Linked DNA regions of Homo sapiens. The protein of the gene in region 1 purifies or fractionates together with the protein of each later gene. This does not show direct contact. Each region holds a gene or a part of one and is shown in the gene's direction. Other genes may lie near its edges.

The links.
Region 2: the proteins of NSUN6 (region 1) and RPE fractionate together in Homo sapiens (co-fractionation; one large-scale study listed by BioGRID). This does not show direct contact.
Region 3: the proteins of NSUN6 (region 1) and WDR13 fractionate together in Homo sapiens (co-fractionation; one large-scale study listed by BioGRID). This does not show direct contact.
Region 4: the proteins of NSUN6 (region 1) and MARCHF8 purify together in Homo sapiens (affinity purification with western blotting; one study listed by BioGRID). This does not show direct contact.

What each region holds. Positions count from the first base shown.
Region 1 is NC_000010.11:18,648,623-18,653,541, reverse strand, and holds the start of NSUN6 (tRNA (cytosine(72)-C(5))-methyltransferase NSUN6), read left to right. Parts: upstream 1-1,954; 5' UTR 1,955-2,338; coding exon 2,339-2,413; intron 2,414-4,896; coding exon 4,897-4,919. UniProt on the Homo sapiens protein: S-adenosyl-L-methionine-dependent methyltransferase that specifically methylates the C5 position of cytosine 72 in tRNA(Thr)(TGT) and tRNA(Cys)(GCA). In vitro also methylates tRNA(Thr)(AGT).
Region 2 is NC_000002.12:210,015,465-210,019,637, forward strand, and holds part of RPE (ribulose-phosphate 3-epimerase), read left to right. Parts: intron 1-508; coding exon 509-648; intron 649-739; coding exon of another isoform or gene 740-793; intron 794-1,042; coding exon 1,043-1,177; intron 1,178-2,008; coding exon 2,009-2,095; intron 2,096-2,325; coding exon of another isoform or gene 2,326-2,423; intron 2,424-2,688; coding exon of another isoform or gene 2,689-2,754; exon of another isoform or gene 2,755-2,757; intron 2,758-4,173. UniProt on the Homo sapiens protein: Catalyzes the reversible epimerization of D-ribulose 5-phosphate to D-xylulose 5-phosphate.
Region 3 is NC_000023.11:48,596,181-48,600,794, forward strand, and holds the start of WDR13 (WD repeat-containing protein 13), read left to right. Parts: upstream 1-1,311; 5' UTR 1,312-1,434; exon of another isoform or gene 1,435-1,777; 5' UTR 1,778-1,816; coding exon 1,817-1,857; exon of another isoform or gene 1,858-2,536; coding exon 2,537-2,777; intron 2,778-3,172; coding exon 3,173-3,282; intron 3,283-3,406; coding exon 3,407-3,537; intron 3,538-4,138; coding exon 4,139-4,446; intron 4,447-4,614.
Region 4 is NC_000010.11:45,462,068-45,466,240, reverse strand, and holds part of MARCHF8 (E3 ubiquitin-protein ligase MARCHF8), read left to right. Parts: intron 1-1,882; exon of another isoform or gene 1,883-1,913; coding exon 1,914-2,002; intron 2,003-2,244; coding exon 2,245-3,090; intron 3,091-4,173. UniProt on the Homo sapiens protein: E3 ubiquitin-protein ligase that plays several important roles in innate immunity and adaptive immunity.

The sequences.
Region 1 (4,919 bases):
AAATTAGCCGGGCGTGGTGGTGGGCACCTATGATCCCAGCTACTGGGGAGGCTGAGGCAGGAGAATCACTTGAACCTGGGAGGCAGAGGTTGCAGTGAGCTGAGATAGCACCACTGCACTCCAGCCTGAGCGACAGAATGAGACTCCATCTCAAACAAACAAAAAAGTCTAAATGTCCTCAATTCTGTCCGTGTGTGGCACTAGTGAAGTAATTTCTGGCAAATGCTTTATCAGCATTTTCTTTCCATAGTTTATAGAGATGTTCATCCATCTTTTCATTTAGTCATTCAGTAAGTATTTGAGTGCCCATTATGGATTAGGCTTGGGTACATAGTGGTGTGATAAAGTCTCTATCCTTGTGGAGTTTAAAATGTAGTTCAACTTGTTTCTCCTCCTTTATCGCTAAAATACAGATTCTAGCCATCAGTGGTGCTATGGTCACCATGAAATTCAGGCTACAGAAATTCCTTTGGAAATGTCTGATTTAGACATTTATCACTTTCAGATGTTTTAGCCATGAAAGAATCTCATGGATTTATTGAAGAAATATGCTATGGTCAAGGACAAGGTATTGGCTCTAGAAGCCAAATTACTAGTCTTTATCCTGGCTTTTTATTTGTGAGAACATGGAGAGTTGTTTCAACCCTAGGAACCTTGATTTACTCTTTAAAACAGAGAAAATGGGCTGGGCGTGGTGGCTCACGCCTGTAATCCCAGCACTTTGGGAGGCTAGAGAGTCAGATCAGTTGAAGTCAGGAGTTTGAGACCAGCCTGGCCAGCATGGTGAAACCCCGTCTCTATTAAAATTACAAAGATTAGCTGGGCCTGGTGGCACATGCCTGTAATTTTAGCTACTCGGGAGGCCAAGGCAGGAGAATCTCTTGAACCAGGAGGTGGAGGTTGCAGTGAGTCGAGATCCCACCATTCCACTCCAGTCTGGGCGACAGAGACTCAAAAAAAAAAAAAAAAAAAGAGCAGAGAAAATGATAAACAACTTGCAGGTTGTTGTGTGGTATAATGGTCATTCATTATTTTCTACTCTTTCTGGTAAAGAGTTGGTGTGTCATGGAAAGTACCTGTTCTATGTGTGTGTGTCTGTGTGTATAATTCGGTGTGAAAATTAAAGAGAAAAAAACAATAAAAAACCCTTTCCTATACTTATGTGTAAATTACCATGGTGTGCTGCAAAAAACATATGTCAAGGTGATAGAATTATTTTGACTTTCCTGTACAGTTATAAAATGACTCAGTGAGTTTGGTTAGATATCCTCGTTCTTTGAATCTATATCCTTGTCTGCTTATGATGAAAAAAAAGAAAAAAAAATAATGGCGAGGGTCTTCCAAACTCTAAAGAATATGTCAACTATGATACAAGTAGCAGTTAGCCTTATAACTAACTGTAAACACTGTCTGTGGGTTTTAAGTTTTACCTGAGCATTGGATATTAACAGACCATTAGCCCAACTTTCAAAAATATGAACCCTATGAACTTCACAACTGAAGTCAGATCTGTATGCCTGAGAGAGGTAAAATCATGTCATGAAATCAAACGGTGGCTGATGCGCCCAAATTCTGGCCTCATCCTCTAACTGGAGGACATCTGGCAGGACAGCAACTGGGCTGTGCCTTTTTTCAGTCCAGCAACATCTTCCACTCAACCCACGCCATTTGGCTGTTTCCCCATTGCCCCTGGCACCTAGCCCTCCGGTACCGGGAACTAAATATCTTTGACCATCCCGCCCGCGGGGTCTGCCTACTTAACCTGAGGCAGGTGAAAGAGCCTCACGCAGGGTTAGGAACCTCCGGGGGCGTGGCGTAGCGTAACGCAGTGTTGGGGAAACTTGCGGCTGTGGATTGGGGGACCGGAAAGGGAGGGGTGGGCCGCAGGCGCCGGACGTGACGTAAGCCGGAAGCGACTTTCCGCCGAGAAATAGGGGGCGCGTGTTTGGAAATTGATAGAAAAGATAAAGGGACCGAGCTGCTGTCAGCCTGGCTTACTGATCTGCGTCCGTTTCACCACGGATTCAGTTACTAAGCATTTTTTTCTTTTTTTGGTTCTTTGCAACGTGAGTGGCATTGGCTCAGTGATTTCCATGAGCATCTCTACCAGAAAACATTGCCTCGATGAGGTGTGGTGGAAGCCCGGCAGCCCCTTCTAATCGGCTAGGCTTGAGAAAGCGTGTACCTCTGCATTTCCGAAATTAACTCAGCGTGATCGGCAAGATTTTCCTCAGCATCTGGTGTCAAGACACTCGTCACTATTAATTCGGAAAGAAAAAAAAAAACAAAACACCGTTTTCCAGCATTTCTCTTGGTGGAGAACTAAACAACAGGAAAAATGTCTATTTTCCCTAAGATATCTTTGAGACCTGAGGTTGAAAACTATCTTAAGGAAGGCTTTATGAATAAGGAGGTAGGTCAAGTAAAGATGTTAGTTGATATTTTGCAAAAACTCAAATATTCGCACACTCGAGAGAAATAGAAATAAGTATAAAGGGAAATCTTGACAGCCGTCGTTCCTTACTACTTGTCTATCAAGTGTAAAAATACCAATATGTTTCTACAGGTATTAAAGCTTACTGAGATACGAAGTGAATAAGGTATATGTTTTAACATTTAGGAGTGGAAAAGAAGGGAAAAAAGGCATGTGCCTGTCAGGCATGGCACAAAGGGTTACAAGGATGAACAAGAAAAGGTCCCTGTCTTCAAGAACTCGAATCGAATTTTAAAAGAGCGCTGGCTCTGGCACTCAGGTGAAAAGGTTTCTGTAATTTGTTGAGTGCCTCTTAAATGCCAGCAGTTGTGCTAGGAGATTTGCATCTTTAATCTTCACAATCTTTTTTTTCTTAGAGGTTTTTCCTCTTTTAATAGACTTGAGCAGAAAACTGCTCAAGGAATTGTGTAACTGATCCAAGTTGACACAGCTATCAAGTAACTATTGAAATCTGGAGGGAAAGAGTTCAGGTGTAATGAACAAAGGTACAGCTTTTGAATCTCAGGCACATGATTTGCATTCTAGTGCTTTGTAAATTACGTGGCTTAACCTAGATTTTTCTCTTCTGTGAAAAATTGAGAATGGTTAAAAATATCTTGCCAGGTTGTTTTAGGATATTAAACGTAAGTGAATACAACTAGCATTGTTTTGGCATGTAAGTCCTCAAAAAATGTTAATTTTATTTGCTAAAGTCCTCAGTAAATGTTGATTATCTTTGATTGCAAAGCCTGTTGTCTATTCCATTTTACCATGCTGCCTCTAAGCAACTTTGTTTTTTTTCAAATCTTTAATTTTTTAGTCAAGTTAAAAATATTTTACCAGGTTGTTTTAGGATATTAAACGTAAATGAAAACAACTTGCATTGTTTTGGCATGTAAGTCTTCAAAAAATGTTAATTTTGTTTGCAATTGGCAGTGCCTGCCACAGAAGTCCTCAGTAAATGTTGATTGTCTTTTATTGCAAAGCCTGTCCTCTCTACCACTTTACCATGTTGCCTCTAAGCAACTTTGTTTTTTTTGAAATCTTTAGTTTTCTTAGTTAGAGTAACACCACTTAAATGTTACTCATTTTTGAATATGTTATTGAAGCCATGCCTTTTAGATTTGATTTCTACGTTTCATTTCCAAAGATTAGCTTGAGGTACTAGACTGTATGGAAAGAGAAAATATATTCTGTTGATTTCAAGGGACTTAAAATATAAGGCACATATTAGGAGAAGTAGGGGCATACCACAATTTTTTCAGCAGATTTTAAAATGGAGAACGTCGTTTTATAAAGAAGATCCAAACGTCTTTCTTTGACACTGCCTCTGCCTCGAGTCTCATCAGTGGTATGGTTTTACAAAATGAAAAGCTATGCCTTTGTGAAAAGTACTGAAGGGAAAGGAATATTAAGTTTTATGCCTTTTTTTTTTTTTTTTGAGACAGGGTCTCCCTCTGTTGCCCATGTTGGAGTGCAGTGACATGATCACAGCTCACTGCTGCTTCGACCTCTGGGACTCAAGTGATCCTCTCACCTCAGCCTCCCGAGTAGCTGGGACCTCAGACAGGGGCCACCACTCTGGCTAATAATATTTGTATTGTTTGTAGTGATGGGGTTTCACCATGTTGCCCAGGCTGAATGTTCAGTTTTGATAAGACTAAACCTTGAGAAAGTATGAATACTTTTAAGGCTGGTGCATGAGTAGGCTAACAAGTGGTTTGTGAAGATTCTGTAAAGCAGGGTTTAGTCAAATAGGAAGACAAAGAAATACGTTTCTTGAAAAGCTTCGGTTAATTACAAGGGAATATTGTTGAGTCTTTATACCGTCATATTTGACAGGTGTCTTTGCTACTCATCTTTTTTGGATAATATATATTTGTTACATTTAATAACACCATATTAAAAAGCTGATGTCCTAGGGGAATCTTTATATGACAGTGACTATATCAATATTACTTATTTTTTAAATATTGGTATTTTAAAAGGATACCAGCCAGTTTGCTCTTGGATATGATGTTAGCTAATTAGCTAACGTCCAACTAACTTGGATATAATGCTAGCTCTACAGAGATGCTGTAATGGTAATGCATTATAAATAGACTGAATTCCTGAATTTATGTGAATAAATGTAGCAGATACTAATATTTGGAAAATGTTCATAATGCTTTGAAGTTTAGGCAATGTTTTTCTAAGCCCTTTATTTCAGGCATTTTCTTAGGTGTTTATTACCATGTTGAAGCCCAAGAACCCCGTGAAGTATTACTATTTCCTTAGTTGCTATTAACATATAAACAATACAGCAAAATAGAATGGAGCTGAACAATTGCTAAGCGATGTTTCATTAGATGGAATTAATATATAAGGATGCTCTGCTGACTGTTTTTAATTCTCAGGAAATTTAAACATGAACTTCTTTTTAGATTGTGACTGCTTTAGGTAAACA
Region 2 (4,173 bases), on another chromosome or scaffold:
TACTTATTTTGTTTATTGTTTGACTCTCGCATTAAGAATGTAATCCCTATGACAGGAGAGTTTCATGTTTTTGCTCTAACCCTAGGACCTAGAATAATTAATGATGCAGCAATAGCTCGATAAATTGAAAGAATAAATGAAAAGGATCACTTAATTTTTCCTAGAGGAAACTAGTTTGCATGGATAGTATGACTTATTCTTTAAGTTTTTTAGAGTGGCATTTCCTGGACCTGGACCTAGATTTCCTGATTTTTAGATGTTAACTTTTTATATACAGCACTGTATGCTTTTTGTGGGAAAATAGTGTTTTTTGTAAATGAATTTAAATAAATCCTTGTCTTCAAAATAAGAGGAAACTACCTATACTGAATTAGAACTATTTAAATAATGATTTGTGTGATGGCCAAAGAGTTCTTATCAGAAGTGGCAAAAACTACATACAGGTTGGCTTCCAATAACATGAGCCAGGTATTTTTCAGTAATATTTTGAAGTGTCTTTTCTTTCTAGACATGCACATGATGGTGTCCAAGCCAGAACAGTGGGTAAAGCCAATGGCTGTAGCAGGAGCCAATCAGTACACCTTTCATCTCGAGGCTACTGAGAACCCAGGGGCTTTGATTAAAGACATTCGGGAGAATGGGATGAAGGTAAGAAATCGTGATGAGAGTGTTTTGTAACATTCACTCTCAGTTGGGAAGATTTGCGGGAAACAGGAAATTTTCTCTTTTTTTGATACAGTCTTGCTCTGTCACCCAGGCTGAAGTGCAGTGGCACAGTCAGGGCCCATTGCAGGTAAAGAATACCTTACTTAAGCAGCTGTTCTTCAGCTATGATGCCAGGATTTAACTTCTTTGTCACATAGCATTTATGTATTCCACTAAAGTTTTCTGAAAGCTACTGCTTGTTGAAAATACTTACATTTAATAGTCTTGTTAACTTTTAAAAAATAAGAACAGATATTTCTACTGGGCCTGCTATGCCACAATAATATAATACAGAAGTAATTGTAAATGTGATATAGCATATTTGTGTCTGTTACAGGTTGGCCTTGCCATCAAACCAGGAACCTCAGTTGAGTATTTGGCACCATGGGCTAATCAGATAGATATGGCCTTGGTTATGACAGTGGAACCGGGGTTTGGAGGGCAGAAATTCATGGAAGATATGATGCCAAAGGTAAAAGAAGTATTTGATTTTGGGGTGAGGCTTTTACAGTGTGTTCATTCAGTAAGCATTTATTGAAAGGCTTGTATATTTAGGCATAACCTGTTCTGAAGGTGAGGAGATGGGGATGCTTACAGATCATTCTAATACAGTATAATAAATGCTGTAATAGATTTCTGATTTGGAAATCAGAGAAGTATTACATCTTTATCTTGAAATTTTCTCTTTCTTTGAGACAAAGTCTTGCTCTGTCACCTGGGCTGGAATGCAGTAATTCAATTAGGGTTCATTGCAGCCTTGACCTCCTGGACTCAAGAGATCCTCCTGCCTCGGCCCCCTGAGTAGCTAGGACTACAGGTGCATACCACCATGCCCGGCTAATTCTTACACATTTTAGTAGAGAGGAGGTCTCACTACGTACCCAGGCTGGTCTTGAACTCCTGGGCTTAAGCTGTCCTCCCACCTTGGTCTGCCAAAGTGTTGGGATTACAGGTGGCAGCCAACCACGCCTGGAAGTCTTGAAATTTCCTTTTGAAACTATTATCTCTAACTTTTAGATCTCTTGGAAGTTGTCATTGACTATTGAGGATTTGTCTGTCTTGTTTACATGACAGTCTCTGCAAAGACAATACAGATTGCTGTTTGCCAAATAGAACAAAGCTTGCTATTAAAAACCAAGTGTTCCCCAGTAATATGTTGTATTGGTATAGTTATTGTGTGAGACAATTGGAGTTTTAATTGCTAATATTTGCTGTTGGATTTTTTTGTTTGATTGTCCCCCACCCCCACCCCCACCAACATACCCACTTTAGGAGTTACTTATTTCCTCATGTATATATCTAGGTTCACTGGTTGAGGACCCAGTTCCCATCTTTGGATATAGAGGTCGATGGTGGAGTAGGTCCTGACACTGTCCATAAATGTGCAGAGGTGAGATTGCTCTTCAACTATGACTAGACCAATTTCCCGTCAAATATGTCTCCAGGACATTGTCTCATGGGCCAGCGATTCCCTCTGTGGTTCCTAAGTTGACTTTCTTTCTTGGAAAAGTATTTTTTGTTCACATGTACAACTAGGAAAATAAACAGCCATAAGTGGATATGCTTTTTTTTTTTTTTTTTTTTTTTCTTTTTCTGAGACAGTCTCTCTTTGTGGCCCAGATTGGAGTGCAGTGGCGTGATCTCTGCTCACTGCAATCTCTGCCTGCCGGGTTCAAGCGATTCTCCTGCCTCAGCCTCCTGAGTAGCTGGGATTACAGGTACCTGCCACCATGCTTGGCTAATTTTTTTATTTTTAGTAGAGACAGGGTTTCACTATGTTGGCCAGGCTGGTCTCAAACTCCTGACCTCAAGTGACCTGCCTGCCTCGGCCTCCCAAAGTGTTGGGATTACAGATGTGAGCCATGGCGTCTGGCCCGTAAGTGGATATTCTAAAATCACATAAATTGTTAAAATTGTAAATCCTGGTTTTCTCAGGAAGGCTGAAGAAAGTTCTTTTTTATAAAAGAATATGTTGAATTTCAGCCCTTTGGAAGATCATTAAGTTTCACGGCCTTGGAAGTGAGAAATTTTTCCAAAATACGGAATTAAAAGGTACTACCAAGGGGGGAAAATAGATAAATCTAATTGACCTAATTATTACATTATTCTTTAGAACCTACATATTATTTAGTTGTTCCTTGTAAGAACTTGCTAGAACCATTTTTGATGAAAATCTAGGCCTGATACCTCTTTGGCTATCTGTATAGAAGTAAAAACTTTTTTTTACTTTTTTTTTTTTTTCAGATAGCTAGTCTAGCATAGTCAGGCTCCTGAGGATGCCAGCCCTTCTGGTAGCACTGCAAGTGATTAAAGCTTACATGACTGCTTTTCTTCCACAGTGTGATGTATCTACTTCCAGGTTCTTGTATAACTGCCACACGTTTCTGCTTGATATATACCTATCAAAAGCTTGACAGTAGTAAATACTTATGCAGGAGGGGCTGGCCAGATGATGAGTGAGCTCATATCCTTTTGATCGCTTGTGGAATTGCTTTGTACTAAACTGTGCTTTGCCAGTATACTATTCCTGCTTTTATGCCAGAGGTAGCAAATTTTTTGTGTGAAAAATCAGACCTTGGCGATGACCTTAAACAGCAGGATATGAAGAACTCCCACAAGCTTAGCGTTCCAATAATGGAACACTAGGCATAAATGGGTTAACTGAAGAGAATATTTGCAGTGTTAACCCTATAAAACTCACCTTTATAATTTCTGTGAGGAATATTGTTAGAAATGTTGTCATACATGAAGTGACACTATCTGTCTGGAAAAATTTTCCTCAGCCTGTGGTTCTCCCACTTCTCCCTCTTTGTTCTAGCAATGAATCACAAAACAGATTGGGTTTCCATCCTTGAATCAGATCCTAGGAAGATCAGAGTTAAATTTGGACCCAATTTTTTAGCTTTTCTTTTTCAATTTCTTTGCTTCCATATTTAAATGTATCTTAAAAACTTTTTTAAAGCCACTTCAAAACCATTCTGAAATGCAATGAAGTATAAAGAGACATTCTATTTTTTGACACAAAAACGAGAACTCACTTAATTTTGCCGTAGTTTATGGATAATTTTACATTTTTAGCAATAATTGTCCTTTCACACTCACAAATTCATATAAATATAATTCAAAGAATAAAAGTGTTTTTTTAGTAACTGTAGAGGCATTGGTGCATATTGGGAAAAACCTTAGTGGACTTGAGGAGTAAAGGCTTTTAAACCTTATCTAAAGGTCGCAAAGATACCATGTAGATTATTAAGAGTTGGTTTACCAGAAAGGTCAATGATTTCTTAGACACATTTAAAAATAGTCTGACATCCTCATCTGTGAACATTTTAAATTTTTCTTATTGAACTAGATTGCTTAAGTCTGCTTAATCTCAAAGTGGCTCTCATATGATTGAAATGTTGACAGATGCAAGGGTAGACACTCTAGTCCAGGAATTCTGTTTTAGGTTTTTCTACATTTTCCTTT
Region 3 (4,614 bases), on another chromosome or scaffold:
TATTTGTTATAAAAATAATGTGGAAAATAACAGCTTTGAATTTTATGTCAGTTGATGTTAAGATCCAACAGGAAGTTTACCCTGATAACGTTAAGATGAACAGTTTGAAAGCAGCTTCCTGCTGGAAGTTGAAATAGAGATGATTCAGATAGCCTCTTTGGATCCAAACCCCAAAGCTTCTTTTGCCTAATTCTATCTTCTGTCTTTAGAAACTCAAGCCTCGACTGGGCTCGGTGGCTCACGCCTGTAATCCCAGCACTTTGGGAGGCCGAGGCGGGCGGATCATGAGGTCAGGAGATTGAGACCATCTTGGTTAACACGGTGAAACCCCCTCTCTACTAAAAACACAAAAATTTAGCCAGGCGTGGTGTCGGACGCCTGTAGTCCCAGCTACTTGGGAGGCTGAGGCAGGAGAATGGCGTGAACCCAGGAGGCGGAGCTTGCAATGAGCCGAGATCGCGCCACTGGACTCCAGCCTGGGCGACAGAGCGAGACTCCCGTCTCAAAAAGAAAAAAAAAAAAAAAAAAGAAAGAAACTCAAGCCTCAAGCTGTCTGGGGGCATCCAAGTCCAACCATCCCAGTCACACACACACAACCGACCTTACTCATCCCAGGGGTGTGCAGAGGCCCACTGCAAGAACTGGTGAACTTTCAAGGCGTCTTTGCATATATGATGATTTTTTATTCTATTATTCAAGTTTTGCTTGGACAAGATTGTGCTGCTAAAAAGTGGCCTACACCACTTTTTTTGTTTTTGTTTTTGAGACAGGGTTTCACTCCCGTCGCCCAGGCTAGAGTGCAGTGGCGCGATCTCAGCTCACTACAACCTCCGCGTCCTGGGCTCAAGCAATCCTCCTGCCACAACCTCCCGAGTAGCTGGGACTACAAGCGCCCGCCACCATACCCGGCTAATTTTTGTATTTTTAGTAGAGACGGGGTTTCACCATGTTGGCCAGGCTGGTCTTGAACTCCTGGCCTCAAGTGATCCACCTGCCTCGGCCTCCCTAAGTGCTGGGATTACAGGCGTGAGCCACCGCGCCCGGCCCTACACCACTTTTTAAAAGTCGTGTTTCTTCTCTTTTTTATAATGTTGTACTTCTGATTTCTAGGGAATGATTAGCAAACTCACCCCTGACGCTATGTCCCTTGGACATTATCCTTGTATACACAAAAAGTGCAATTAACGAGTGGGTAGAAGTCAAGGGGTGGAGCCTCCGTCCTTGGGCTTGAAGCCAATGTCCCTCAATGCGCCTGCGAGACTCCCACGCCCTGGGAAGGATGCCTATCGATTCGCTCTGGGCTCGGCAGTTCTTTCTGATAGCAGGCAGCCATCTTGCCTGGAGCCTGAGAAAGGGAGGAGAGACAGAAGGAACCGGCGACAGTGGTCTCAGGGCCGCTCCGGGGGGCCTCAAGAACCGGAGGCAGCCCCGGAGGTGGTCCCCGATCCCGGGCTATGCTCTTGGATCTGAGAAGGGAAGGCGGAGGGCGGCGGGGACAAGATGGGTGGAGAATGTCAAGCAAGGAATGCTAGGCGGGGGAGGGGCGTTGCTATGGCGACTGGGGAGGGGCGGTGTCTGTTCTGAATCGCTGTGTGTCACCCGGGCGCTGCCCAGGAAGGGCAGGGCTGGGGTGATGACCATGGTAACACCCGGGGGGGAGTTCGTGACATCTCCGGCGCGGAGGGACTCGATGTCTATGGCAATGGTCGCCTGGTGGAAGGGACGGAACTAGATCCCTTCGCTCGGGACGCTCACATTCCAGGCCCTTGTCCTGCAGGCTGCCGCGGGCGGACACGCCAGAGGAGGAGGCCGGGGAATGGCCGCGGTGTGGCAGCAAGTCTTAGCAGTGGACGCGAGGTGAGGCGTGGGGTCAAAGCCCATGGGAGCAGAACTTACTGTGGTGCATGCGCAATGGCGATAAGTGAGGCTGGGCGGAGAACTTGCCTTATGCGGCTGCGTGGGCATGCCGGAGGTGAGCATGCGCAGTAGCGGGGGCGGGCACGCCCGCGGTGAGTTGGCTGCGCCGGAGAGGATTCTAAACAGCAAGCTGGGAAAATGTGGTCAGATGTGGGCATGCGCAAAGCGGCTACCTGTGAGAGGGAGGTGGGGCTCAGGCAGGTGACATCCTATCCCCTATGGGTGTCCCCTAGACTTTTTTTTTTTTACATCATCACTTCCCCATTCTGACCCCATCACCTCCCAACGCTGACCCCCATAATGTCAGTCTGATTTCTGTCGCCCTGGTATACTGACCCTAATTATTGTCTGCGCTGACCCAGTCACCCCGTAGGGACCCCAGCACGGCAGCAGACTGACTCTGTTGTCTGCAAACTGACCTCATGACCATGCTCATTATTACTGCAGACTCACTCCCACCACAGGACCAAGAGGTCCCTCATCACCACTGCTAGTCATTCTTACCACCTAGGCCCCAGTCACTGCCACACACCTCACTCTCCTGCCGTACCCCCCCCCCCGAGCTGATTGATTCCCTCTGTCCTGTGCCTGCTGCCTGCCCTGCATCCTGACCCTGCAGGTACAACGCGTACCGCACACCAACGTTTCCACAGTTTCGGACGCAGTATATCCGCCGGCGCAGCCAGCTGCTGCGGGAGAATGCCAAGGCTGGGCACCCCCCAGCGCTGCGTCGGCAGTACCTGAGGCTTCGGGGGCAGCTGCTGGGCCAGCGCTACGGGCCCCTCTCCGAGCCAGGCAGTGCTCGTGCCTATAGCAACAGCATCGTCCGCAGTAGCCGCACTACTCTTGACCGCATGGAGGTGAGCTTCTGGCCACATTCACCCCCGGGCATACCCTGCCTGCACACATTCACTCCACTGACTTTCATCAAGCACCTGCTCTTTGCTGGGCACTGTTCTGCATCAGCAGAGGACAAAAAGATAATATGCCAAGTAAACCAGTAAACACACAAACTTTGTAAACAGGTCAGTAAACATATAGCAAGCCCTGTCTTTAGTATCTGCTGAGCAGGGGGAGGGCAGGAACAGCAGAACTCGTGAGGAAGCCACTGCAGTAGTACAAGTGGGCAGCGGTGGTGGTGGCAGGGGACACAGTGAGAAGTGATCTGACTCTAGGTAGATTTTCAGGGCTCCACACCTCAAAGGTTCTCGGGCTTTTTGCAAGATGCACCCACCCTGACCCTCTCCATTTGCAGGACTTTGAGGATGATCCTCGGGCCCTGGGGGCCCGTGGGCACCGTCGTTCTGTCAGCAGAGGCTCCTACCAGCTGCAGGCGCAGATGAACCGTGCCGTCTATGAGGACAGGTATGCACCAGAGGCAGCCAAGGCGGGGGGCGGGTTGCGAGGAGGAGAGGGGCCCTGGGGCAATGGCAGACTGAACACTCTCGCATCTACCTCCTGTCACCCCTCACTTCCTATTGGGGCCCAGGCCCCCTGGCAGCGTGGTGCCCACGTCAGCAGCAGAGGCAAGTCGGGCCATGGCCGGGGACACGTCACTGAGCGAGAACTATGCCTTTGCGGGCATGTATCATGTTTTTGACCAGCACGTGGATGAGGCAGGTGAGCCAGTGGGTAGCGGGTTCCATCACCAAGCGTTTGCCCAAACTGTGACAACCAACCAAGGCATCCTTTTCTGAATCCAAGGCCCCTGGCACACTCCAAAGGAGGAATGACCATCCATAAAGCCTTTTGTAGACTGAAAATCCCTCTGCAAAGTGGTCAGTGCTTCGTCTACTGGAAAGGGCCTCAGAAGCCTAAGAGAGAGCCCTTTGCAGCAGGCTGCCTGGGTTCCTGAGTCACTTGGAAGAGTTCAAAGCCTTTGCTGATGATAAATCCCCTTGCAGAGGGCAGAGTGGGCTACAGTGTCAAGGGTTTTGCAAATTGCCAAGACCTTGATTATAAAGTGTTCGCTAAGACAGGAACTTTTTCATGTTGCAGAAGACTTTTGCAATCTGCAAAGGAGCTGCTAAGACTTAGGGAGCTTTGGCAGAGGGTCTTCAGGGGTTACAGTTCCCTTTGTCAGCCAAGGAAAGCCCTTTGCTGAGGCCACTGTTCCTCATGCAGTGGGGCCCCAGCCCCAGGCACACACGTCAGAGCCTTTTAGAGAGAAAAGTGCCCAGTGAGTGTGCAGATTCCCACTAATGGCTTCTTGGCATTGCAGTCCCAAGGGTGCGCTTCGCCAATGATGACCGACACCGCCTGGCCTGCTGCTCACTCGACGGCAGCATCTCCCTGTGCCAGCTGGTGCCTGCCCCACCCACAGTGCTTCGCGTGCTACGGGGCCACACCCGTGGTGTCTCCGACTTCGCCTGGTCCCTCTCCAATGACATCCTCGTGTCCACCTCACTGGATGCCACCATGCGCATCTGGGCCTCTGAGGATGGTCGCTGCATCCGAGAGATCCCTGACCCCGATAGCGCTGAACTGCTCTGCTGCACCTTCCAGCCTGTCAACAACAACCTCACTGTGGTCAGGCTCCAGGACACCCACTCACCAAGGGCTGGTGGGCTGGGTCAGGAAGGCTATCTGAGGGAATCAGAGTATAAGGAGGGACAGCCAGGGGGGGCCTAGGACCCCCCCACCCCCCACCCAATCTCGTCAGAGCAGTCCTAGTGTGGTCAGACTTAAAAGGGAAGC
Region 4 (4,173 bases), about 27 Mb from region 1:
GGACTGTAGGAGTTTGGGGACCTTAGCATGGATACCCTCTCAATCTGCTCCCCTGTGGTATAAACAGTAAAGCCCATTGTACTAAAAGGCCTTGAGTGCTTGTCTCTGGGGCAGGTGGAGCCAGTGATGGGTGCCCCGAGAGGAGGATGCTGGAGAGGGGACAGTGTCTAAGGCAGTTGGAGAAAAAGGACAATGGCTTATGCAGTCAGGCCTAGAAGATGCAAGGGATGTCACAGCATAGTGTCCACAGGCATCCCTAGATGTCTTTCATTTTGTTTCAGGAAGAATATTGACAAAGGTAGTGATGGGAGGGTTATTTCAAGGATGCTATTTTCATGTGTCCAAGTAAACTTAAGATTCCTAAGAACTTTGACCTCTAATGCTTTTAAAGACCGTGTACCTCATGCCCATATGCACATTCAGTTAGAAAATAAATGTAGATTCTTTGGTGAATTCGAAGATGTGCTCATGGAGTGGCACAGCGTGATCTCAGTGTACACATGAAGCATGCTGATGAGAGCTTCTTGGATCTTGTTTCTTCAGGTGGACTTGCATTAAAGTGCTGTTGAATCTCTGCACTGGGAGTGGGAGCAGCCATGCGATGGGTGCCTTAATCCGAGTGCCATCCTGGCTCTCTCCAGGCTGCTTCATTTGCTGTGAGGGGTAGGGGGAGGAGGAGTTTCCAGGCAATGGCCTTATCTGTTCTGGTGGTTGACCAAGGGTCGGGGGTCCCAAAGGTGGAGTTCCAGGATGAGAGTGCACCCTTGGGGATGGTACTTAGAAAGAGTGGGGACTAGGCCTCAGCCAGGGAATGGTGGGCCAGGGTGGAGCTCCTTTGTATCAAGGAGTTAGGGCCAAGGGCCATGCAGGTGGGCCTGCAGAAGGTGGGTGGTGATATGGCCTTTCTGGTGATAACAGACTCGTGGCACTGTTTTCCTGGGGCTGTTGGGGTTGCATGGAGCAGATTCTTACTCAGGCTTACTGTCTTAAGGAGGGAAGAATGCTTTTTTATGAATACGCATAGGTCTGTGGGGCTGTGGAGCCTGGGGAATCCGAGGCTGGCGTGGGAGTCTGGGGCCCTCTAGCGGTGGTGGTGCATCCTCAGCTCAGTGCCACTCACTGTCCCTATTTCTCTCTGTCCATTTCTCTCCTCACTGCAGTGCTTCCTCTCCTTCCTAGATTTTTTTCTCTAAGTTTGACTATTCACCACCCCAGAGACTCTGTTCTATCCCATGACCTCTTGCTGTACTTTCTTTCAAATCTAAATTTTCTTGATTATTTTTCTTAATTTACAGTTTCAAGATTAGATCTGTTGGGAGCATTCTGTGCTCTACCTCAGCCCCTGGTTGAGCTATGGATTGGTGTCCCCCATGGTGACGTGGTCTGGACTCCCTTTTGTGTGAAGAGCTGTGGCAGGGCAGTGAGGTTTTGTGGAACTCAGGGAGCATCTGGCACTATGTATGAGGTTGTGAGGTGGGAGAGAGCTCTTAAATCTACCAGCCTTGTTGATCTTGGGAACTAGGAGAGAGTGCTAGGGAAGCCAGTGCCAGCAGGCCTGGAGCCTCATATTTCTTTGGCATTTGTATGATACCTTCTAGTACTTCGTTTTTTGACTTATATATGAACTAACTCAATTTAGATGCTTAGAAAATAAACGGCCACTGGACCTGCAAGAGATTAGTAGTGGTGTTCCATAGCCTTAGACATTTCTTACACTTTTATCCACAGATAAGAAAAAAATAGTGATATTTGATTTGTTTTGCCAAGGCTTAGAAGGATCTAATATGTGTTACTCGTTGAGCAGCGGGAAGCAGCAGACATTTCTAGGGTTTCTCCCTGTCACCATTCAGGAGACAGTGCACACAATCCCCTTGGCTCTTACCTGAACACTGACCACAGGTCTGTCATTGCAGGCTGGGAGTCCTCCGTCAGCATCAGCTCCGGCTCCGGTGTCCTCCTTCTCTCGCACTTCTATCACGCCATCCAGCCAGGACATCTGCAGGTAACACTCTGCTTCAGATGCTGCCATGATCAGTGTGCAGCCAGAAATAAGCATTAGTGTCTGTAGGTTCTTGAATTTCCATTTGCTTAATCAATCTGCCTTTGGTCTAAACAGTTGGCGAGTTTTATGTGTGGTTTGCTCACCAAGTTACCCATGCTAGTCTCATTTCTTCACTATGATGTCTATTCTCTTTTAAAATTGTTTTTACTTTCTGTGCTTTTATCCCACTGTTCTGCATGCAGTTCCAGTGCAGTGTTTTCTGAGTGTTGTCACCACAGTTCCGTGCAGTCTGCTGTTGTCTCGAAAGCTCCTCACTGCCAGAGTTCTCTGACACAAGGGCTCACTGTGACAGTTATCTGTAAGGACACATTACAGGCGTCAAAGAGAAATTCCTTTGGTTCAGAATGGGCCCAGGCCTTGAAGCCTGCTAAGAATACCAAAGCCAGAAGAACACTAAAGTTCTCAAGGTCCCTCAATGATGTGGGTGAGAAGGCGCAGGATACTTCAGAAAGTTTTGCCTATGTGGAAAGAACTTGTTCTGAAGGGAAATTAATACTCCCTCAAGATACGTGTCTCAGAACTAACAGGTTTCATCATAAAGAAAAAAGAACCCTGAACCACAAACCTCTTGGCAATTCCAAACATTCTTGTGTTTCATGCCTTTCTGCCGGTCGCTCAACTGCCTCAGAGGTGGAAGCTGGCAAGGGGGGCAGGCCCGGCCTGCTGCTGGAAGAGAAGGCGGATGGTGAGGCCACGTCCCGAAGCCGGCAACTGCTCCAGTACCTGTTCTCACTCTCGCACGGCTTGAGCGCCAGCAGCCTGCACAGGTTCCATGAGCTGGAGAGCTGCGCTGCTCGCCTGCACACTGCCAAGTCCTCCAGCGGGCTGGCAGGGAGTATGGGCTTCTGCTCTGACGAGATGGGAGACGACGATGTCTTTGAGGACAGCACATCTGCAAAACTGAAGAGTAGGGTTCTGCGGGCGCCCCTCTGCTCCACGGAAAAGGACAGCGACCTGGATTGTCCTTCTCCCTTCTCTGAAAAATTACCCCCCATATCTCCCGTGTCCACGTCAGGGGATGTCTGCAGGTTGGTTTGCCAGGAAGTGCCATTCTAGCCATCTCTGCTCGCATCAGGAACCTCCTCTTGCTTTAGTATGTGAAGTTTCAGGAAAATGAAGTAATAGGAAGTTGTAACCAGTTGTGGGTTGATGGTTTTCTCCAGAAGAATGGAGTATCAATATCGTTTGAAAAACTTAATTTTTATGATGTGAGTCCCAAGATAGTTTTACAAATGATAAAAGAGGAAGAAGCTGGCTGGGCGCAGTGGCTCACGCCTGTAATCCCAGCACTTTGGGAGGCTGAGGCGGGTGGATCACCTGAGGTCAGGAGTTTGAGACCAGCTTGGCCAACGTGGCGAAACCCCGTCTCTACTAAAAATACAAAAATTAGCCGGGCGTGGTGGCGGGCGCCTGTAATCCCAGCTACTCAGGAGGCTGAGGCAGGAGAATTGCTTGAACCCGGGAGGCGGAGGTTGCAGTGAGCCAAGATTGCGCCATTGCACTCCAGCCTGGGCAACAAGAGTGAAACTCTGTCTAAAAAAAAACAAAACAAAACAAAAAAAAAAAGAGGAAGAAGCTACACATATTAAAGGCCAAGCTGACTCTTCTAAACTAAAAATAAGTAGACTTTGCATAAAGAAACTGGAAGAAAGAAACTAGTATCTTCAGTTTTCCAGCCTGATGGTCCAGATTTTAAGCATTGTTGCATCTCCCAGCCTCTTTTTTAACCCTTGCTCCCTACCTACCCCCAAAAGGTGTGTGGGGACTGGCTGTTCTCCAGTAGCTCCTTCCTTCCTTCTTTTTAACTGAGGTGTAGCCACCTATGTCCCATCCTAACTCTGTTTCCCCCCTTTATCTTCCCTTGTGCAGCATCCTTGTCTGGCCTCCATAATTCACTTTTTGTCATGACTCTTGTGCCCTCCTCATTCTGACCTTTCTCCAGTCTCCGCTCCTTAGTGCCAGCTGTCATCATTTCTAACATTTGGATCAGAGATCCCCTCACTAAAACAGCCTGAGAGCCTGGCTCCTTCCAGGACGAGTGCCCCAACCTGTTCTCTAGCTGCTGGAAAAGACCCCTCTGTTTCTTAAAAGCCTGTTAAGTTCCTTCAGGC